Regions from separate parts of the Homo sapiens genome. Here region 2 is linked to region 1. Evidence: fine-mapped expression QTL. Tissue or cell type: whole blood. Region 1 holds a variant in brackets; the other region holds the start of a gene. All regions are shown on one strand. Distances are from middle to middle.

The links.
Region 2: it holds the start of CLU, and the variant in region 1 is fine-mapped to the expression of CLU in whole blood (TOPMed, PIP 0.94).

What each region holds. Positions count from the first base shown.
Region 1 is chr8:27,641,729-27,651,768 of GRCh38, forward strand. It overlaps SCARA3 (scavenger receptor class A member 3), which reads left to right. Exons shown (of 6, transcript NM_016240.3): 2 at 7,974-8,072; 3 at 9,780-9,899. Among named protein-coding and RNA genes, the nearest start is that of SCARA3, 13 kb to the left of the region's middle. RefSeq lists an enhancer at 9,335-9,835. The variant A/T (reference allele first, on the strand shown) is at 4,253.
Region 2 is chr8:27,609,669-27,620,732 of GRCh38, forward strand. CLU (clusterin) reads right to left here and starts at 5,032. Exons shown (of 9, transcript NM_001831.4): 1 at 4,987-5,032; 2 at 807-932. The coding sequence starts at 903. MIR6843 (microRNA 6843) reads right to left here and starts at 1,083; the gene lies at 933-1,083. RefSeq lists enhancers at 1-67, 774-1,481, 4,664-5,163, 6,120-6,620, 6,911-7,667 and silencers at 3,445-3,630, 5,186-5,275.

The sequences.
Region 1 (10,040 bases):
CAGATGGAACAGCAATAAGCCTTAAGCTCCAGAGGGCAGGCAGGATGTGTAGAGATGAGACAGTAAATCCCATGTCCAGAGCCCTGAGTTTCAACAGAAAAGCTGCTTCCATTCAAGTTGATGGCAGGAGACAGAATGAAGAATTCATCCAATCCAGGTGATGTCATTGTCCAGAACAGTGTTCCCTAAAGTCAGAGTCCCTCTGCCTCTGAACATAGGTCCCAGAATTAAAAGATACATTTATTTTTCAAGATCTGCAGGAAGTTCCATGACCAAATAAGTCTGAGAAACGTGGAGTTAAACACAGATTTAAATGGGCTTATTATTTTTTTTGGCAGGACTTTTCAAAATGCTTACTATGTGAATGTGAATCTCTAAGATGGCGATAGAGTATGCCATGTTTTCCACACTTACTTGATCAAATAATCCTTTTTCACAAAGAATAATTTGGGACTAGTGTCCCATAGGATATGTTTTGAAACACTGATTTCTTGTAAGTTGGAAATTGGTCCTGGGAGTGATGGGGGTTGGGAGATGGCAATAAATGGCAGCATTAATTGGAATAGGATAGAAAAATAATCCTAATAAAAGTGGCTGCTACTACTATTTATTAAGCATTTACGATGTACCAGGTACTTTTCATATACGTCTCATTGGATTTTCACAGCAGCTCATTGAAGCGGACGATCTCCCCACCATTTACGCATAAGGAACATGAAACTCAGAGGAGGGAAGTGGGGTGCCCATGCGAGACAGGGTAGGATTTGCAGGATCAGGGGTGACAACGGGGATCAAGAGAACTGGTGATTCCTGGCCAGGCATGGTGGCTCATGCCAGTAATCCCAGCACTTTGGGAGACCCAGGGAGGAGGATCACTTCAGGCCAGGAATTTGAGACCAGCCTGGGCAACATAGTGAGATCTTGTCTCTACAAAAAATAAGCAAGATTAGCTGGGTGTGATGGCACACACCTGTAGCCTCAGCTACTTAGGAGGCTGAGGTGGGAGGATCGTTTGAACCCGGGAGGTCTAGGCGGCACTGAGCCATGATCGCACCACAGCACTCCAGCCTGGCCAATAGAGCAAGACCTTGTCTATAAAAAGAAACAAAAAAAGAAAAGAAAAGAAAGCCAGTGATTCCCACCCCTCCCATCCCTCTGAATTCATGGGGTTCAGGGGAGTCGGGGGGGTTGGTGCTGTGGACAGAGAGGAGATCAGTGTGTAAGTAATGGGGGGAGTCTGTTGCATTGAGTGAGTAGCCTAGGTTCTTGTCTCAACTAGAGGCAGCACCAGCCTGCGAGCAGGTATTTAGAAATGGGTGGGCATTCGGGGTTGTCACAATGACCAGGGATTGCTATTGGCCTTTAGCGGGCAAGGCCAGGATGCTGAATGTCTGTGCAGAGTGGGCCGTGCTCATCTAATGAAGAATTGCACCACCTGGAATAGGGTCCAAGTTAGAAAAGTTGAGGGCAAGAAAGTTGTTTAGGATAAAGGGGATTTAGGATAAAGCAGGGATTTACCCACAACCTCTGTGGTTACCAAGAACAGGGTGGGAGGCAGCCAAAGGGATTCAGGTGGAGGTAGCAGGAACCGGGAGGGAAGCCTGTCTCAGAGCAGCAGATGTGGCTTTAGGGATGCAGGAGCTTGAGGATGGGGACCAAAAAAGGGGCGAGTGCTGGAGGAGAGAAACTGGCAGAGCCACGGAAGCAGAAAAGGACAACTTGTTGAGCAAGAAGATTTGAAGGGAAAGGACCTGTGTCTTGAGACCTGAGCGGGCAGGCGGATTCCCAACCGATTACAGACAAACCCACAAAGGAAGCCTGTGGAGAGGGGGTAGTGGCGGAAGGGCTCTAATGAAAACAATTTTGCAACCTTACTTATAGCGTTCTCCAACCTTAAACTAATAGCTATTCTGCACTTTAAATATAGCATTGGCTCCAGAGAAGACTCTGAAATCTTTATTTTTACCGATCCAATTGGCTGTTTTGAAAACCCACTCTGTGAACCCTGCAGAAGATAATTATCAAAATATGTTCCTTGAAGTGCCCAAAGAAAGACCTTTTATTCAGTTCCTCGAATCTCTCCCCCTTGTTGACTCAGATGGAAGAATGCAGTCCCAGAAAGGCGAAAGAGGGAACCAAGGACACATTTTTGGTCAACCAAAAGAAAGCCGGCATTGGTGACCACAGTTGAGTTAGCAGTTGGTTAACAGGTCCGGGCTATTTTCTACCCCCAAAGGGAGAGCTGAACCAAGCTCAACCCCAGTGGAGTCAGTGGCCGTGCTTAGCAATGTGCCAAGGCATGCACCCTCCATCAAACTTGCTACGTGGCTCTGTGAGAGCAGACTTAAAAAAAAAAAAGGAATTTCTCCTCTTGTGGCTGTCCTTTCTGGAGTTTGAGATGGATATTGTGACCTAAGGGATGACAGGAAGAGAGGCCCTTTCAAATTTCTAGTGGTCACCACTATTTTATGGGTCTGGGTTTGCAGCCTTGGCCTTGGCCTTGGCCTTCCCAGGCTATTTAACTTTTTTTTCTAAGCACCTTGCCTGCGATTTGGGTAGTAATCACTGCAAGAAGATTGGGGCCTGGCTGTGCCTTTCACTAGGAAATCCATGGGGCTGGCTTCTTTATGACAGGGACCATGGCCCTCCCTCATAGCAGCTGTGGTCCCTTGGGGCCTTGGGATCAGAGCAGGCAGAAACTGGCTCATGGAGTCTTAGATGTTCGTTCTTTCATGATTCCCATGCTGTCCCAAGTTTGTTCCCAGAGAGGAGTTTTCCCATAGGTTTTTAGGTCCCAGCATCACCTTATCTTCTCCAGTGTCCTCTTCCAAGCCCATCCGCTCCTGCCAAAATAACCTTGCTCCTGGAATCCACAAAATGAAGAAAAGAAGGGGAGAGAGAGAGAGAGAGAGAGAGAGAAGAGAGACAGAAGGCAACCAGTGCTATTTCTGCCTTCCTATAAACGGAGTCTCTCTCTAGACACCTAGAGCCTATCATAACATGATGATTTCATTACCCCTTCCAGACACCCAGCATGCTTCACACTCAGGCACTCCTCGATTTTCAGCATGTCAAGAGTCCTACATTTCTTTATACATGACACAGACAAGAACCAGCGCCTTACTTTAGAGAGCTATAGACATATTACATACAGGTGGTATTGAAAAGCAATTAACTGGGACAACAATGGAAAAACACGACCCCCCCAAACAAGAACCCTTGGAGCTTCAGGAGAAGAATATGATGTCCCTTGTTCTGTTCTGCGAAGGGGAGGGGAAGTAGAGCCAACATTTTGCTCCTACCCAGTCCTCCACCAGCTCATTCCTTTGCAGTTCAAACACCAGCCCTTGGTATATAAATTTCGCCTTCGCTGCAAAATTTTATAAATTTCGAAAGGTATATAAATTAAGCCTTTGCACTCCAAATGCATCCATCGTCCCCAACACTCCCTAGCCATGGAGAATCCTAAGAATAAACCAGATTCCAACCCTATTTTAAGTCATCAATCTTCATTTTTTAAATACACATGAGCTCCTGATTAAAATAGCAGAGGATAACAGTTAACTGAAGACATAGGCCTTCGCCGAGGGCCAGAAAACACATCTTTATGGAACATCCACTATGTGATCAACCCTGTGCTGAAAGCAGTTGAGGGGAGCTTTCCTGACCACAGGGATGTAGCAAACTGCTAGGAGCGTGACCTGTCAACAGATATCAGGCTTATATGGAAAGGTCTTGTCCCAGTTCTGAGGCGTTTCTGAGATGGGCATGTGCAACTCTGCAGACACTCAAATGCGTGTTTGGATTCTGCCTCAGATTCTTGGATATTTAGGAGCCACTAACCAGCTTCCAGGCCACTTAACCTCTCTGAGCCTTTGTGACATGATGGAGGTGAATTTGCAAATTCCCTTCCCACCCTCTCAGGCTGTGGTTCTCTATCCCTGAAACCCCTTTGGAGAGCTGGTGCACCTAACTCTAAGTCAGTTTGCCCTTAATGGCAGGAGAATAGGCATAGAAGACGGAGAGGGGAAGGAAATTCTTTTCCCATCTCTATTAACCCTGCTTGGCCTAGTTCAAGGAGGCACTACGGATGCCTGCCTAATCAGTCATCCTCTGATCAATCACTACTCTGGGGCCTCAGCCAGGGCTTTTTCATTCTTGGTGACTGTTTATTCATCCATACATATTCTGATCAGAACAATCTTGGTATAACATGAACATAATGAGCTTGTGCTTGCAAAGGGCTCGGCTT[A/T]TAAGAGCCTCACAAATGCTTTGGATTATGTTCTCATTAAGTGAACGAGGCTACAGTGGTGAGTTACTACAGCATTCCAGACATAGGTGAGTCAGGGGTCCCCACAGTCCGGGGCTTAGTGCTGGAAGACAGGAAATCCAAGGGATTAGAGAGAGAAGACCTCTTTGGGGATTGGGGAGGGCTGTGAGTTATGGAGCTGAGATGTCAGTGGAGGGAAGATGGCCAAACACCCGTGGTCCCCCTAGTCTAGAGAGATCCAAGATCTTCGCTGGCAGCCGCCACTTCCCTTCCCATGGGTCACTCGGTGCGTTACTGGAAAGCCTCGTTAGCAATTTCCACTGGCTAACAGTTGCTAATCTGGGGGGCTGTCCATTGGGAAAGCTGGTTATAACAAAGCTCTGTGTTTTTTGAGAGGGTGTTTGCTGAAGGCTGGTGTCAGCCTTGCTTGATTTAAGTCATCCCAGATTCCCTGCAAAGGCTATAAACAGTGAAGTGATGAAATGGGCCCTAGAGCCAGAACAGGGAGGAGGCCCAGTCACGGGGGAGGGCAGAGGAGCTCATCAAGGATGGAGAGAAACGAGGAACCCGGCCAAGGAGGCAGCTCTGCTCTAAGGGTTGGAAGGAATACCTCCCCACGGTAGCCCCGGGGCAGTGGTGAATACAGCCCACAGCCCACAACGTGGTTCTGACTGGGGTCTCTGGAGGTGAGAGGCCATGGCTACTAGGGTGAGGTTTTGGTCAGACAGAAACAGAAGGTACCAAGGAATTCCCCTGCCTTGCCCCAGCCATTCATTTATGGGAAAGAGATCATAATCCTGGTGACTGCCCAGGCCAGGCTTCCTTGTAAACTGTTGGCAGATTGACGATGGGACAGCTGCCCAAGGAGAGCTGAAAGTGCTTCTTAGGATATGCATGAAAACAAACTTCTCATGCTTCCTTGCTGTTCCCGCTTTACCCTCCAAAGCACTTGCCCGCACCCCTGACCGCCCCCGCCCCCCCCCCGCACACACACACTATTGCCCCGGAAAGCAAACCTACCTGGAATCTCCTATTGTGGAGAGGAAAACCAGGATTCCGGAAGCTTTGCCACTGCCCAGCTCTATGACTTGAGCCAGGCATTAACAACCTCACACCACACATACACAGGTACACACACATGCACACTCATGGGCAAAAATGCACGTGCACACATGTGCAAGCACAGGCACACACGCAGGCATGCATGTATACTCACACATGCATCGGACACACCCTCACACACATGTGCACACATACACAAAGTTTAGTTTCCTCACCTATCAAATCAGGAGAAAATGTTCTCTCTCTGTCTCTCAGACTAGTTGTAGGGATCAAATGGGATAACAGATGTGAGAGCGCTTTCAAAGTCCTAAACCCCAGGTCTCCTTTGTCGCCCCAGATTAATTCAATCTCTGGGGGTGGACCCTTGAAAGCTCCCCAGAGAGCTCCACAGGCAGGCATAGAACTGCTGGGAAGCCTAATACCAAATCCTTCATTGGTTTATTTGAAATTGTGTTTGTTGAGCCTTTCTCTGTGCCGGCTCTCTGTGCCGGCCACTGTGCTAGGGATGTTGGATAAAGCAGTGAACATGACAGATAGTCCCTGCCCTTGGAACTGAAGCGCTGGGGAAGAGAGCTGCCGCATGGACAGGAGAGGAGCATTCTCCTAGGGAGAGCACAGAGCATGTGAGGTGTGGGCAACAGGGCCTTACGCTAGTCTGAGAGCTCAAGAAAGACTGCTGGGGAAGTGACGTTTAAGCCATGCGTGAAGGCCGAGCAGAGGGCACTCGTGGTCTTGATGGTGGCATTTTTAATTTGGGGTCACCCTCAGTCCCCTCCCTACTGAGTCCATTCAGAGCTGCCTTTGCTTACCAACAGCGCCTTGCCAACTGCATCTCAGCTCCTATGTTGATCACAATGGCCGTGGCATGGCATTTGGGCCTCAGGTACTCACAGGTCTAGGATGCGGCTCAAGATGCCCATCAATCATGGTCAGGAGCCCCCGAGGCTCCGCAGCTCATTCATGTACCACCCTCTTCTTGTCTACCCGCTGACCTTGTAGTTGCAGAAGCAAGGTTTCTTAGCACTTTGTGGAACCTTTGCTCATTACCTCAAGGTGGTTGTAGGTATGGTAGAAAAGATTTCTGAGTTCACATCTTGGCTTCACCACTTCTATTCTGTGGGCTGCTAAGCAACATTCTTCACTTCCCTGAACCTCAGTCTTTTTGTCTATAAATGTGACTCTCTGGACTGTAAAGTTTATAAGATGTTGTGAAGATTGCCTTGAGGCAAAACCCAGCACTTTATTGCATTAAAAACAAAAAGGAGGCAGGGCGCAGTGGCTCACGCCTGTAATCCCAGCACTTTGGGAGGCCAAGGTGGGTGGATCACGGTCAGGAGATGGAGACCATCCTGGCTAACATGGTGAAACCTCGTTTCTACTAAAAATACAAAAAATTAGCCGGGCGTGGTGGCGGGCACCTGTAGTCCCAGCTACTCGGGAGGCTGAGGCAGGAGAATGGCGTGAACCCAGGTGGCAGAGCTTGCAGTGAGCCGAGATAGCACCACTGCAATCCAGCCTGGGCGACACAGTGAGACTTTGTCTCAAAAGAAAAAAAAAAGGAAAAAAGGAAAACTTGAAGCTTCTACTTCTAGCATTACCAGCTTAAAATATTCTCGGGCTATAAAATGTAGACATTAAATAAACTACAGACATACTGCTAAGTGCATAGCTAAAGGTGAAAGAAAGCAGGGAATCCTTAAGGACCCAACAAAACGGCAAAGAAAGAGATAAAGAGAGAGGGAGAGGGAGGAGAGAGAAAGAGAGAAAGGAGGGAGGGAGGGAGAGAGAAGGAAAGGAGGGAGGAAAGTAGGGAAGGAAGGAAAGGAAGGAAGGAATGAAGGAAAGGAAAGGAAAGGAGAAAGGGAAGGAAAGAGGTAAGGAAAGGAGGGAGGAAAGTAGGGAAGGAAGGATGGAAGGAAGGAGAAAGGGAAGAAAAGGCCAGGTCTTACTTACAGGGAGTGGGAGGTGAAGGGTGTCTGGGGAACTAGAGGAATCTTCTGAGTGAGGGATACATCATCTAGGTTTTAGTTAGGGACCATATTGTCCCAGAGAATAAGCACCGAATCAAACTCTGAAAGGAGACCTGCTCCGCCCAAGGCCCTTTGACACCCTGATGGGTCCTAGGTGAGATTGTGTGAAGCAGGGATCTGCGCCCATCCTGTCATCTCCTCCTCCCTCTGGCCTCCTCCTGGCTATGCTGGAGGCAGAGTCTTGGTGGGGACTATGCTGTGGCCAGATTCAGCCTTGTCCCTGGAGAAGAGGAATTCTGCTTCGGTGACCAAGTATTGGGGAATAGAAGGACGCTAAGCCAGAGCAAGCAGCCAGCTCTTATTTCTCCTTACTCCACCTTCATGGGTTTCAGCAAGCTCCAGAGAGAGCAGGCACTGAGGTGGCCCATGTGTCTTTCCCAGCGTGTGGAAAATGGGGAGCTCTCCTCACCCAGAGGGGTGGGACATCCCAGCTCCTCAGCCACTTGATTCTTATGTCCGCTCCCTTTTTGCAGCTTACATCAGGCCACCTGGAGCTCAGTGAGCTGGCTCAGGGGTAGAGGTGGGCATGGGATATGGGGACAGGTAAATAAAAGGGGCTGCTGGAGAGGCCTGGGATGGCTTTGGGTCTGACGGCACTGGCTTCATTATAGTGAGGTCGGCCGGCGGCGATGGAGATGCCTTGTGCGTTACAGAAGAGGACCTGGCGGGTGACGACGAGGACATGCCGACCTTCCCATGCACCCAGAAGGGTAAGGACTCTGGGGCTGCCCCTGATCTCCGCTCTGGGCTGAGAGATCCCTGTCTCCATCCCCAGGCCAGTGAGAGATTTGTCTCTTTAGGTGGTTTCAAAAGCCTGGGTGTCCTTTCCCCACTGCTTCCTGGATGGTGAAAGGGCAGAGTTCACGGCCCTGGGCGTGCAGTACCAGTGAAGTCAAAGGAGTTTAATGTTTTTTTTTCTTAAAGACATGGTTTTGCTGTGTCGTCCAGGCTAGTATGAGTGGTGCAACCACAGATCACTGCAGCCTCAAATTCCTGGGCTCGAGTGATCCTTCCACCTCAGCTTCCCAAGTAGCTGTGACTGTTGGCACGCACCACCATGCCTGGATAATTTTTTTTATTTTTTGTAGATACAAGAGTCTTGCTATGTTGCCCAGGCTGGTCTCAAACTCCTGGCCTCAAGTGATCTGCCCGCCTCAGCCTCCCAAATTGCTGGGGTTACAGGTGTGAGCCACTGTGCTTGGCCTGAAATCAAAGCTTGACACAAGTGCCACCTGTCTCCTGGGGTCCTCCCGAGACCCATCAGGGACTTCTGCCATCTCCCAGAGCTACATACCCTGTCCCTGGGGCCTGTCTTCTAGCTGGCCTGGAACTGTCCCCTTCATTGTGTCCCATGCCACCTGAACTGCTGTTTGGAATGGGGTCTCAGTGACTTTGGTGTAGAGTAGAGCAGTTGTTCTCAACCTTGGCTCTTCATTGCAATCACCCATGGATGCATGAGACCAACCCTTGGAAATTCCTATTTGGCCTGGAGTGTGATCTGGGCATCAGGATTTTTAAACGTCCTAGTAGTCAGAATGTGTGGCTAAAGGTGAGTTCACCTTAGGAATTCGCAGCTGGGCCATCACTGCATTCCCACTGGGTGTTGGCCACCTGTCTGTGTATTCAGGACCATCTGGTTCCCTCTTTCCTCCATGCCAACAATTCAACTGGTGGACCATGACTATTTGTTTGGTTTCCAGGAGAACTTCTGGTTCCCTGAAAAGTTTGGGGACTGGTAACCAACATTCTGGTTTGCCAGGGACTGAGGGGATTCCCAGGGTGTGGGGCTTTTCATTTTCTTTTTTCTTTTTTAAAATAGAGATGGGATCTTGCTATGTTGCCTTGGCTGGCCTCAAACTCCTGGGCTCAAGTGATCCCCCTGCCTCAGCCTCCTCAAGTGCTGGGATTACAGGCATGAGCTACTGTACCCGGCAGGCTTTCAGTTTTAAAACCCAGACAATCTTAGCAAACCAGGATGATTGGCACCATGCTGAGGAGCTCCTGTGATGGGAGACTTTCAGTGCTAAAACCCAGAAGATCCTGGGCAAGCCCAGACAAGTTGGTCACTCAGTGGGGCCTCAGGCTGGCTGCTCATCCTGTGGGTCCTCAGTAGGACCAATGGAGAGGGAAGAGGTGTTTCCCCTCCCCATGGGCCGAATGAAGACACCATGGAGAGAGGATGATGGTAGTGCTGGGGGCTGTTCTTTGAAGTCCTGACTCGGTCTCCTGCATTCCAGAAAGCACCAGCACCTAGAGAAAGGAGGTAGGACAGGTAGAGAATGAGGGTCGAGAACAGCTCCCCTTCTGAGCCTGGTTTGAATGTGATGAGACAGACCAGAGCAGGAACATGGAACTGACCCTTCAGCTCCAACCTGGGCCCCTGGCCTAAGCCATTGTCCTCCTTGTGTCCCCCACAGGCCGGCCAGGGCCCCGCTGCAGCCGCTGCCAGAAGAACCTATCTTTGCACACATCGGTGCGGATTCTTTACCTCTTCCTGGCCCTGCTCCTGGTGGCCGTGGCTGTGTTGGCCTCTCTGGGTGAGTCCGGGGCTTTCCCACCCCGGGCTGCAGGGGGGTGTCTGATCAGGGATCCAGCACCAAAAGTTCCCCTGCAAAGACAAACACTTGACATCTGTATCCCAGGGCCCAGAGCCAGCATCTTCCTGGCTAGGGGATCTC
Region 2 (11,064 bases), 32 kb before region 1:
ATGCTCCAGCCCCCCGCCGTGCCCACTTCGCAGAGGGAGACATGGGAAGTGTGATATGATAAAGGGTCAAAGTGTTCATCAGGTAGGAGGAGTATGTTCTGGAGGTCTAACATACAGGTGGTGCTTATAGTTAATAACACCATATCATAACTGGAAATTTGCTAAGAAAGTAGATTTTAAGTCTTCCCACCGTCCCACCATAAAAAGTGGTCATCATTTCAATGTATGTGCATTTCAAAACATCACGTCATATACCTTAAATATACACAATTTTTATTTGTTAATTATATCTCAATAAAATGGGGGGTGGGGGGAGTGTCATGAGATCAAGATAGTGGCCCAAAGTCACCCAGCTGAGAAGAGGTGAAACAGACTCACACCCATGTCTGATCTGGGTTTTTAACAATGATCCTGCAGAAACCGTCAGCTCACAGGAGGGATAAGCTCTGGGCACTCCAAAGGGGAGAGGGATAAGAGCTCCGGTGGTCCAGACACAGCTTCGTGGAGGAGGCCTGGGAGCTGGGCTAAGGGGCCTGGGAGGGGAAGAGCTGAATGAAATGCAACAGCCGAAAGTGCTTGGGAAATGCCTGCAAATGCCGGCAGTCTGATGCACGCAGAGCCTGAACCAGGGGCCTCGGAGCTGAGGCTCAGAGTGGGCCCAGACACAGGCACCCAGACCCAGTGCACAAGATAAAAACGGTCTGTAACACTGGGGCCTGATAGAGAGGCACTGAGCAGAATTAGCTACCCTGCCCTCTGACCTCATCACCCTGTGGCCAGAGGAACATCATGCTTGGTCTACTCACCCTGGAGCTCATTGTCTGAGACCGTCTGGTCCCCCAGGACCTGCCCACTCTCCCAGGTCAGCAGCAGCCCCACAAACAGCAGCAGAGTCTTCATCATGCCTCCAATTCTGGAGTCTTTGCACGCCTCTGCAGAGAACAGGAGACCATCATGGGAACAGCTAGACAGCCTGCTGGCGTCCCGCCCACCTGCTGCCTGCAGCAGCTCCCCAGGGCCTCACTGCCCTCAGCTGTCCCCACAGCAGGCACTGCTGCACTTTTATTCCTGAGGAAATGGGGGGAAATGACCAGACTTGCCATGGACACCTCGAATGAAAGCGAAGGCAGGAGGTGCAGGGAGGGAGGGACTGCAGGACAGCAATGTTGAGTGGAAGAAACAAGAACCCTGGCATCGGAGGAACCAGGCTCTTGTCCAAGCCACATCCTCCCCGACAATCAGCGAGGCACACAGGCTTTCTGCATCCTGGCCTCCTTGTCCAGAGTGGTATCGATCATGTCAGACACTGAAAATACCCCCCTTAGGTCATGCATCCGTCCCTCCCCATGCCACCTCCACAGAGGGACTGCATCCCAGAGACCAGCCACGTCCTCTGCAATGTGCACCTAAACCTTCACCCCAGCAGACGCTCCCCATTCACCACAGCGCTGCAGCCCCCAGGGAGTCTCAGCACCACCTGAACTTGACTTTCAAGAGCCGGAGGCAACAGCAGCCAGCCCTTCACACCGAATCCATCTGCATCCCTAGTGGGAGACTTGGGCCGGGCTGCCTGTGCATTCAGGGGTGGAAGTAGTGGAAGCCAGGAAGGACAATTCCCTTCGGAGAGTAGAGAGGGTTCGCAGTGGCCCGAGGAGCAGGCTTCCCAGAGAAAGTCCCTTTGGAAGGATGAGTCCTCTTGCTCTGCCAGGCCCTCCACACTGCCCATCCCCTCTAAGCCGACAGCAGGCTGCCCTGCCAGTGTTCCTGCCACCACTGGGCTGGCTGCCCTGAGCCACGGGGCACAGGCCATAGCCCCGGTCTTACACAATGGACCCTTTCCCAGAAGCTGAGGCTGTTGCATAAAACAGAAACCCCTCCCCCTGCACTCCACCCCCACCATGCCCCTCCCAAGAACTGCTTATCTGAGCTCACCCATTTGCCATCACAGAACCAACAGGACGATGGGGTTCCCCTTCCTGAAATGGTTCACATCCAAAGCCCGCTCAGCCCAGCAGGCCCATCTGGACACTCAGTAGCACATTAACAAGGAGTGCCTCTCATGAGAAGTAATCAGGCGCAAAGAGCCAGGGAGCAGCGTGGGAGAAGAGATGGGGTCAGCGCCTTCCCCAGAGATGGGGTAGGGGGCGGAGACCGGGCTCACCAGGAAGGCTGTGGTCTCACGGGCTCTGCCCCAGCTGCCCACTGAGCCCTGAAATGCCTCCAGCAGGAACAGAGCCTTTGTCATGCCAGAGAGACAAAGCCAGCCAGAAACACCTCTCTGCCAGGGGCCCCTGAAAGCAACAACTTCTGGAAAAACCCATTCAGAACTAGGTTCTGACCAGAAGACAGGGTGCTGGGCCATGAAGAATGGGGCAGCCAAAGGCAAGATACAGGAAAGGAATTCCAGACTCAGCAGCGGGCACAGAGTCTGCTCCAGGGAGCCTGGGGTCCCTGGTGAACCATCCAGCTCAGACCTGGGAAGGAGGTCGTTCTCTCACCCAACCTCTCTACCCTAGCGGTGAGGCTGAAGCCCAGAGAGGGCATGGGACTCCCTAGAGTCCACAGCATGCTCATGGTAACCCTGGGATGAGAGCCCAGCCCTCCCGACCCCTAGTCCAGTATTCTTTCCTTGATTCCAAGTCACTTAAATATCTGAGCCTCAGTTTCTTCATCTGTAAAATGGATCTAATCCAGACCTCAGAGAGGGGAATGTGTTCTGTAAACACGAGGGTCTTATGTAATCATAGTAAATTCTGACTACTTCCAAATTAGACTGAGGTCTGAGGCTGGGCATTGGCAGTGTCTAATCAACATGTCTGGAGAGGGGCAGGAAAACCGAGACAAGCACACAGAGGCCACCTGTGGTCCCCCGGACTGTGTGGCTCTGCTTTGCTGAAATGATTGACCACTTTTTAAAGTACTTATGAATCACTGCAGGGCTGGTTATAATGTTGGTTCTGAGACTGCTTTTCCAGCCAGTCTGCAGGTGATATGGATGCTGCTGATCCAAGGAATGTTCTAGAACCGTGACTGCACAGCCGACCTCCTTTCCTTTGCTCGGACTCACCTCCCCCCTCATCTCCTCTGCCTCCTGGGAGCCTGGCTGCCAGCTGCCCTGGGTGGAAGAGCCATGCCAAGGCCAAGGCCCTCGAGTCCCCAGCACTACCACACAGCCTCATTCTCCCTAAGAAGGCTTAAACCACTTGGCCTTGCTCCTTCTACCAGAAAAGGCCGGTTCTGTGGACAAAGGGGCTGCTCAGGGGAAGAGGAGGAGGAGAAGATGGCGGGGGGTGGGGGGCAGGGGGGGCGGGGGGAGCAGGCAGACTTTGGGAGCAACTCCCCTCCAGGCACACCCTCCTGGGAACTTTGAACTGAGCAGCTTCCCAAAACGTTTCCAAGCAGGGCAGGGCTGGAGGCTTAAGAAAATCAATGACCTGGCAGGGCGCATTGATTCACACCTGTCACCCCAGCACTTTGGGAGGCCAAGACAGGCGGATTACTTGAGATCAGGAGTTCGAGACCAGCCTGGCCAAGGTGGTGAAACCATGTCTCTACTAAAAATACAAAAATTAGCCGGATGTAGCAGCATGCGCCTGTAGTCCCAGCTACTCAGAGGCTGAGGCATGAGAACTGCTTGAACCCGGATGGCGGAGGTTGCAGTGAGCCGAGATGGCGCTACTCTACTCCAGCCTGGGCAACAGAGTGAGACTTGGTCTCAGGAAAAAAAAAAAAAAAGAGAGAAAAGAAAGAAAGAAAATCAATGACTGTGAACAGGGAGCCGTGGGGAGGATGGGAAGACAGTGAAGAGGGCACACAGATGGTGAGGGTTTCAATCCCAAAGCCCCGGCTCCTATCTGCTTCTTCAAATGGAGAAAACTAAACCAAAAGGAAAATAAGAAAAATAATCACCGGTAATTCATATCACCCAGAGGCAAAGGTTAGCACTGTGGTATATTTCCTTCTGTCTTCCATGCAGTTTATACAAGATTCTTCACATTCACCATCTTCAAATATTCTTTAAGGGCATACTTTTATGGCTATGTAATACTCCACTTACTCACGGACCTAAGTTTATTTTACCATTCTCACAAGATTGGCCATTTCAGTTGTGCCCAATGCTCCACTATTATTATAACTTAACATTTTCATGGGCATCTTTTTTTATATAGTATCTGTACTTTCCTTTAAATTCCTAACCTCTCCGTTTAAAAAATAATAATAAAAATCATATTTTTTTTAACTAGGTCCAGAAATTCTGGAAGGTCAAGAGGCTTTGGCTCGAATCCCAATTCTGATACTTATTTGCTGTTTAGTGTTGGCACCAGTCCTAAACCTCTCCAGGCCTCAGATTATCATCTGTAAAATGAGACTGTGGAATCAGAGGTCTGAGGCCTGGTGGATCTTGTGTGACTTTTCTCTGATGCACCTCAGATGCATTAGGAGGCAGAAAAAGTCGGATTTCGGTGGTTGCAGCATATACTGAAATCCGCAGCCTCATACTTACAGGCAACAGTGTCCAGAGAGCTAGAGAATTTAGAAGAAAACTAGATGACTCATGCATGCAAGCCGAAAGCCACAACTGAGAGATCCGCATCTTCGCAGAGGATATGCTGCAGGAAGGAGCTCGGTGCAGGCCAGCTCTGTCACCTGCTAGCCTGGGTCTCCCGCAACGCGGCAGGTCTCCAGGTCTCAGTTTCCCCATCTTTGCGAAAGGATGATCATTATATCTGTTCTATTTACCCCCCCACCACAGAATTGTGGTTGGAGCTCGTGCTCTCAGGCGGCGGTTGCGCCGGGGCCCCTGGCTCAGCTGCCTGGTGATGGGGCTCCGGCCACCTCCCCTCCCTGGCTTCCTGGGCTCCGTCGAAAGCGCAGGGGTTGTGACTGCGAGCTGTGTCATCCCTCTCTGCCTGGCTGCCATCCCCTGCCCGCCCATCCGTCCTGGTGTGGCTCTGCTCAAGGGTAGGGAAGACGGGGACATCTCACCGGTCAGCGGCACCCTGTGCCCGCGCGCTCCTCCTGGCGACGCCGCGTTGTGGGCACTGGGAGGCGCCGTATTTATAGCGCTCTGCTCGCGCACACACCCCCTTTGGGGCTGGCTGCAAACCTGCATGACTCACGCCCAAAGAATGCCGCGGAAAGCAAGGGGAGCTTTCTGGAAGCCGGGAGGTGGGGGCCGGTGCAGCACCGGGCTGGGGGCGCCGGGGGGCGCATCATCACCACGAATAGCTGTGCTGGCTCCAGGAGAGACCCTGAGGTGCGGCCGCTCGGCGCTTCCAGTAGGGAAGAGCCTGAACTCGCGTGCCCATCTGGGAGCCCCTCTCACGCGGTTAGCCCGGCTGTCTGTCCCAGTCCAAGACACAATCTCACAGTTCCCTGGCCCTACTGACCTTAACCTTCACATTACACAAGCGCCACTTCTCTTGACCCATTTAAATAGTAAAGAGTCAGACATAATGAGGGTGGGATGGAGAGGGGCCTTGTGCTGGAGAAGAGAGCACAGGAAGTATTGAAACGCCTACTCCTGGAAACATCACACTGATGGGGGTCCCTGGACTGACCCGCCAGGCCTGGAGGAAACAGAATTGTGTTTAGGAGTGATCAGAGCAGATATGTGGAGAGCCAGAAGGCCTCTCCGGGGTCCTTGATCCACAGAGCTTAAGCAATCACTGTCCCCATCTTTTTGGAACCCAACCAAGCAGGGTGGGCTTCATGGCTGTGGGACCCTTGCAGATCCACGTTTGGTTTAATGGGCTACTGTGACGGTCTTGAAATTCTTCATAGTTTTTGAACCAGTGGACCTGAATTTTTATTTTGCCCTGAGCCTTCCCAGTTAGGAAATCAGATCTGTGTCCAGAGGGGTTTGCTGGTCTCCAACTGCTGGAGTTCCTTCTGCTGAGAGCAGGGAGAATCTCCTGTCGCAGCCACCCCTCCCCCTGGCAAGGAGGGGCAAATCTAGGAACCCTGGAGGTGCAGCTACTTCTTGGGGAAGAAAGTGAGCTGCCCATTTTGGAGCCAGGGATGTTTAAGCCCCAGGAGAGAAGTCAAGGGGCTGACAGCTGGGGCAATGGGTGGACAGGGCGGGTACAGGCAGCCCCACTGTGGGTGGCAGACTTTGAAAACCATGTGAAACAAAGGGGCTTAAAGGAGAGCTGCGTGGTCAGGGGCTGAGTTTTCCAGTTCAGGATCAGGACTATGGAGGCACAACATGGAGGCCCAGTCCCTTGCTTGCCCAACGTCCAGGGGCCACTAGGACCCCAGTCCTTTTCAGGAGGCAGCCTCGGGGAATCTTCAAGGCCCATGACTAAGTGGGAGAACCCAGACCAGGTCCATGAAAGTCTGATTACAGTCCTAGGTGTGCCCCTAGACACTGGGTGACCTCGGACTAATCACTTTGCCCTTGGGCCTCAGTTTCTTCCATCTGGACGATGAGGAATCGGGAATGGATCATCTCCACGGCTCCCTGCAACCTAACCTAGAGCCAAGCCAAGTATTAGAAGGCCATTAACCCAGAAGAAGAAAAAAATGTCCCAGAAGAGGCTACACTTTATTTTTCTTAAAAAAAAAATGTCTAATTATCAGTAACAGCTACATTTTCTGTGGACAGTGCCTGCTCCTTATCAGTGCCTGCTCCTTATCAATACCTGAGGTTAGAAGAATTGTTTTTGAGCTCGCTCCTTGTAACTTTTCTGTTCTGTAGCTCCCTCAGCATCCGGAACAGAAGGCATAAATCTAGTTATATTTTTAAAAATTAGACTTTGGAGGTCAGTCAGTGAGATCCGCCTTAGCCAGCTGAATTAGGGGAAGGGAAGAGAGGAAGAAAGGACTTGGGAGAAAATAGCATGATTCACAGATTCACAGTCATGACTGTGATCCCTTGGGAATAATTACTTGATTATTCCCACTACTAAGCAAACAAGGTTCAGAAGGTCAAACTTTGAGGAAAGAAAAGTGTAAATTTTGAAAGCGCCATAAATGCATCACCAGATGTTTCATATTCTAAGCAGATCATAGACATTGATTGGTTCAGGACTCACACACTGCTTGATTCCTACCCCATCCCCAGCATCTGCACCCGGTGGTCATCCTGCCCATGTTTGAATGCCACCAATAACAGGGAGCTCACTACCTGCCATGCAACCATTTGTCTAGTAAAGCTGTTGATAAAGTTAGGGCCTTCTTTGGTTGAGTCACAGTCTGGCTCGTGTATGGGCCAATCCGGAGCCCAGTTCTGCCCTCTGGAGCCACACAGAGAAAATCCAGCCTATCTCTCCCATAGTGCCCCTTCTGATATTTGAAGGCAACGTAGTCTGCTTTTCCCAGTGACCTCCAGGCTTGCAGCTCCTTGCCTTGCCGTGGTTTGCAGACTTTTCCCCAGCCCTTTGACATTCTGGACCTCATCTCTCTTGAAACCCTTGGCCCAGCCCTGGACTAGCCAATGCCAGTGGGGAGCCTTGGACCAGCCAATGCCGGAGGGCCTGAGCACACAAAGCAGAACAGGACCACCCCTTCCCTTGCCCTAAACACTCCAAATAAGCTTTATCAGATGCTGAGTCACTGGGCTGATTCATAGAGAATGCATCATCTTCTTGGCAGGTGCTGCTGTTTGATCCTCTGTCTCCCATTATGGACTTACACAGCTGGGTTTGGGGCATTAGCTTGATTTATTTTCTTGGAGAGTCAGAGCCATGGGGAGGGCCAGGGAGGGATGAGTAAAGACCCTTGCATTTATCTGTTTATCTATGCTTTGTGCACCATCTCTGGCTGCCTGAATGTCTCTGGGGCTGCTTCGCTACGCAGTGTCCTTATTACACATCCCCAACCAGCCTTTGTCTGGCTCAGCACCACAAGCAGGACAGCTCAGCCAGCAGTCTGATACAGCTGGAACAAACTAGGAATGGGCAAGAGCAGTATCCTGTGGCCTGTGATTAAGAATCACTCTCAGATGGGCGTGGTGACTCACACCTGTAATCCTAGCACTTTGGGAGGCTGAGGTGGGAGGATCACTTGAGTCCAGGAGTTCAAGACCAGCCAGGGCAACATAGCAAGACCCAGTTTCTACAAAAATTAAAAAATTAGCCAAGCATGGTAGTGCATGCCCGCAATCTCAGCTACTCAGGAAGCTGAGATGGAGTATCGCTTGAGCCCAGGAGGTCAAGGCTGCAGTGAGCTACGATCGCACCACTGCACTCCAGCCTGGGCAATAAAGTGAGACCCTGTCTCTCAAAAATAAAAATGAAAAAAATAAGAGAATCACTCTCCAAGGGGAGCAGGGAGGGAGGATGGTGAGAGATTGGTCAACCAGTACACAGTTAAAGTCAGATGGGAGGGATAAGTTCTGGTATTCTATCGCATAGTAGAGTTTAACTTTTTTTTTAGGTCCCAGTATCTATTGCTCCCCTCTATGTGTCCATGTGTTCTCATCATTCAGCTCCCACTTATAAGTGAAAACATGCAGAATTTTGTTTTCTGTTCCTGTGTTACTTCACTTAGAATAATAGCCTCCAGCTCCATCCATGTTCCTGCAAAAGACATGATCTCGTTCTTTTTTATGGCTGCATAGTATTCCATGGTGTATACCGTAGTATTCCATGGTGTATATATACCATATTTTCCTTATCCAGTCTGCCACTGATGGGCATTTAGGTTGATTCCATGCCTCTGCTATTGAGAATAGTGCTGCAATGAACATATGAGTGCATGTGTCGTTATGGCAGAGCAATTTATATTCCTATATATACCCAGTAATGAGATTGCTGGGTGAAATGTTAATTCTGTTTTTAGCTCTTTCAGGAATCATCACACTGCTTTCCAAAATGGTTGAACTAATTTACACTCCCACCAACAGTGTATATAAGCCTTCCCTTTTATCCACAACCTCACCAGCACCTCTTATTTTTTGAATAATGTATATTTCAACATAGGTAGAAGAGAGAACTTACAATGTTCTCACCACAAAGAAATGTTTGAGATGGATTTGGTAATTACCCTAATTTGATCCTTACACAATGTGTGCACGTATCAAAACATCACATTGTACCCCACAAATATGTACCATTCTCGTGTCAGTTTTAATTTTTTTTAACTTAGTGAAAGGCTGGGTGCAGTGGCTCACGCCTATAATCCCAACACTTCAGGAGGCCGAGGTGGGGAGATCACTAGGTCAAGAGACCATCCTGGCCAACATGGTGAAACCCTGTCTCTACTAAAAATACAAAAATTAGCTGGGCATGGTGGCACGCGCCTGCAGTCCCAGCTACTCGGGAGGCTGAGGCAGGAGAATTGCTTGAACCCGGGAGCTGGAGGTTACAGTGAGCTGAGATCGCACCACTGCACTCCAGCCTGGCAACAGAGTGAGACTCCATCCAAAAACAAACAAACAAACAAACAAAAGGATGGATTTGCTAATTACCCTAATTCGATCATTACACAAACGATCTTAGTAAAAAGATCACAAATGATTCTTAGTAAAAAAGAATCACTTTCCAAGCTGTAATTATTTAATGGGTATATACATTTATTTAATCAATTACAGGCCCATGATCAAATGGTGGCTAATAAAATCATATCCAGTGAAATCAGCCCATAGATGATACAGAGGTATTCTGAGTGATTTTCTCCGGACCTCCGTAAAGTCCAGAAACATTCACTCCATCAGTGGGTGTGTCTCATCTCCCCATTCAGGATCTTCTTGGGTAAAGGTCTGAGGCTAGCCAATCCTGAACTGTTTAGCATGTGCCTACAAGTAAACAAATGTCGCTTATGCCACCTTCACTGTCCCTCATGCTATTGAGTGGCTATGTGTTCTGTATTTCACTCCAGAGTTGCTTTACTGTGACCTTTAGCTCCAATTATTAGGTGAATGAGCCCTTCAAAAAATGGTGCCAGATCTGCTTTAAGTCAAACCTACTTTTTCCACAACTACCCAGATGGCAATTAATACTTATTTTAGATCAATGGTTCTCAGTGGAACTACACAATGGATATACAATGGAATCTCCTGGGAACTTTAAAAATTATCAGTGCCTGAGTCCCACCTCCAGAGGTTATGAATGAATTAATTGTGGGTGCTGCCAGAGCATCAGGATTTTAAAACTCTCCAAATCATTTTAATGAGCACCTAAAGTCGAGGACCACTTCTGAATTTACCCCATCTGTTCCTTACTGCACCTCTCTGTCATTATTAGAGCATCTGATATTGTTCTCATTTTATAGAAGATGTAAAAGAGGGCAAAGGAATCTTGGCAGGGTTTTGTTTACACAGAGCTAAAGTCTGCCTCCTTATAACTTCTTTTTTTTTTGGTTTTGTTTTGTTTTTTAATACGGAGCTCATCCCGTCGCCCAGCCTGGAGTGCAGTGGCATGATCTCGGCTTACTGTGACCTCCTCCTCCTGGGTTCAAGCGACTCTTGTGCCTTAGCCTCCTGAGTAGCTGGGATTGCATGTGTGCACCACCACACCCGGCTAATTTTGTATTTTTAGTAGAGACAGTGTTTCACCATGTTGGCCAGGCTTGTCTTGAACCCCTGACCTCAAGTGATCTGCCCGCCTCTGCCTCCCAAAATGCTAGGATTACAGGTGTGAGTCACCGCGCCTGGCCACCACCTTATAAATTCTTTGTCCCATATCTTATTTCTAAATCAATACATGATAAGTTGGTCCCTCCCACAAGAAAGCCCTTCAAACATTTGAAAACCAATATTGTATCTCAGCTTAAATGTATTTCCTTACAGTGTAATGTCCCTCAACATCCTCGCATAGAGTGGAGTTTCCAGATAACCTCACTCTTCTCATCCCTGCCCCCAAGGATGCCACATTTCTTCATTGTCCCTCTGTGTGGCTTTTACACCAAACACAGGAGAACTGCTTTGACTGGCCAGGGGAGAGTGTGGCAGGGCACTTACTACCTGTGATTTGAGAGGTGTCACTCCCTGTGCTCCCAAGGCACTCTCTGCTTCCTTTTGTATTATATTATACCACACTGTGCTTCTCAGATTGGCTTGAGCTGACTTCTGGGGAGGTTGTACTGTACACAGAGACAAGGAGGCCACTGGCTCTGGTATTA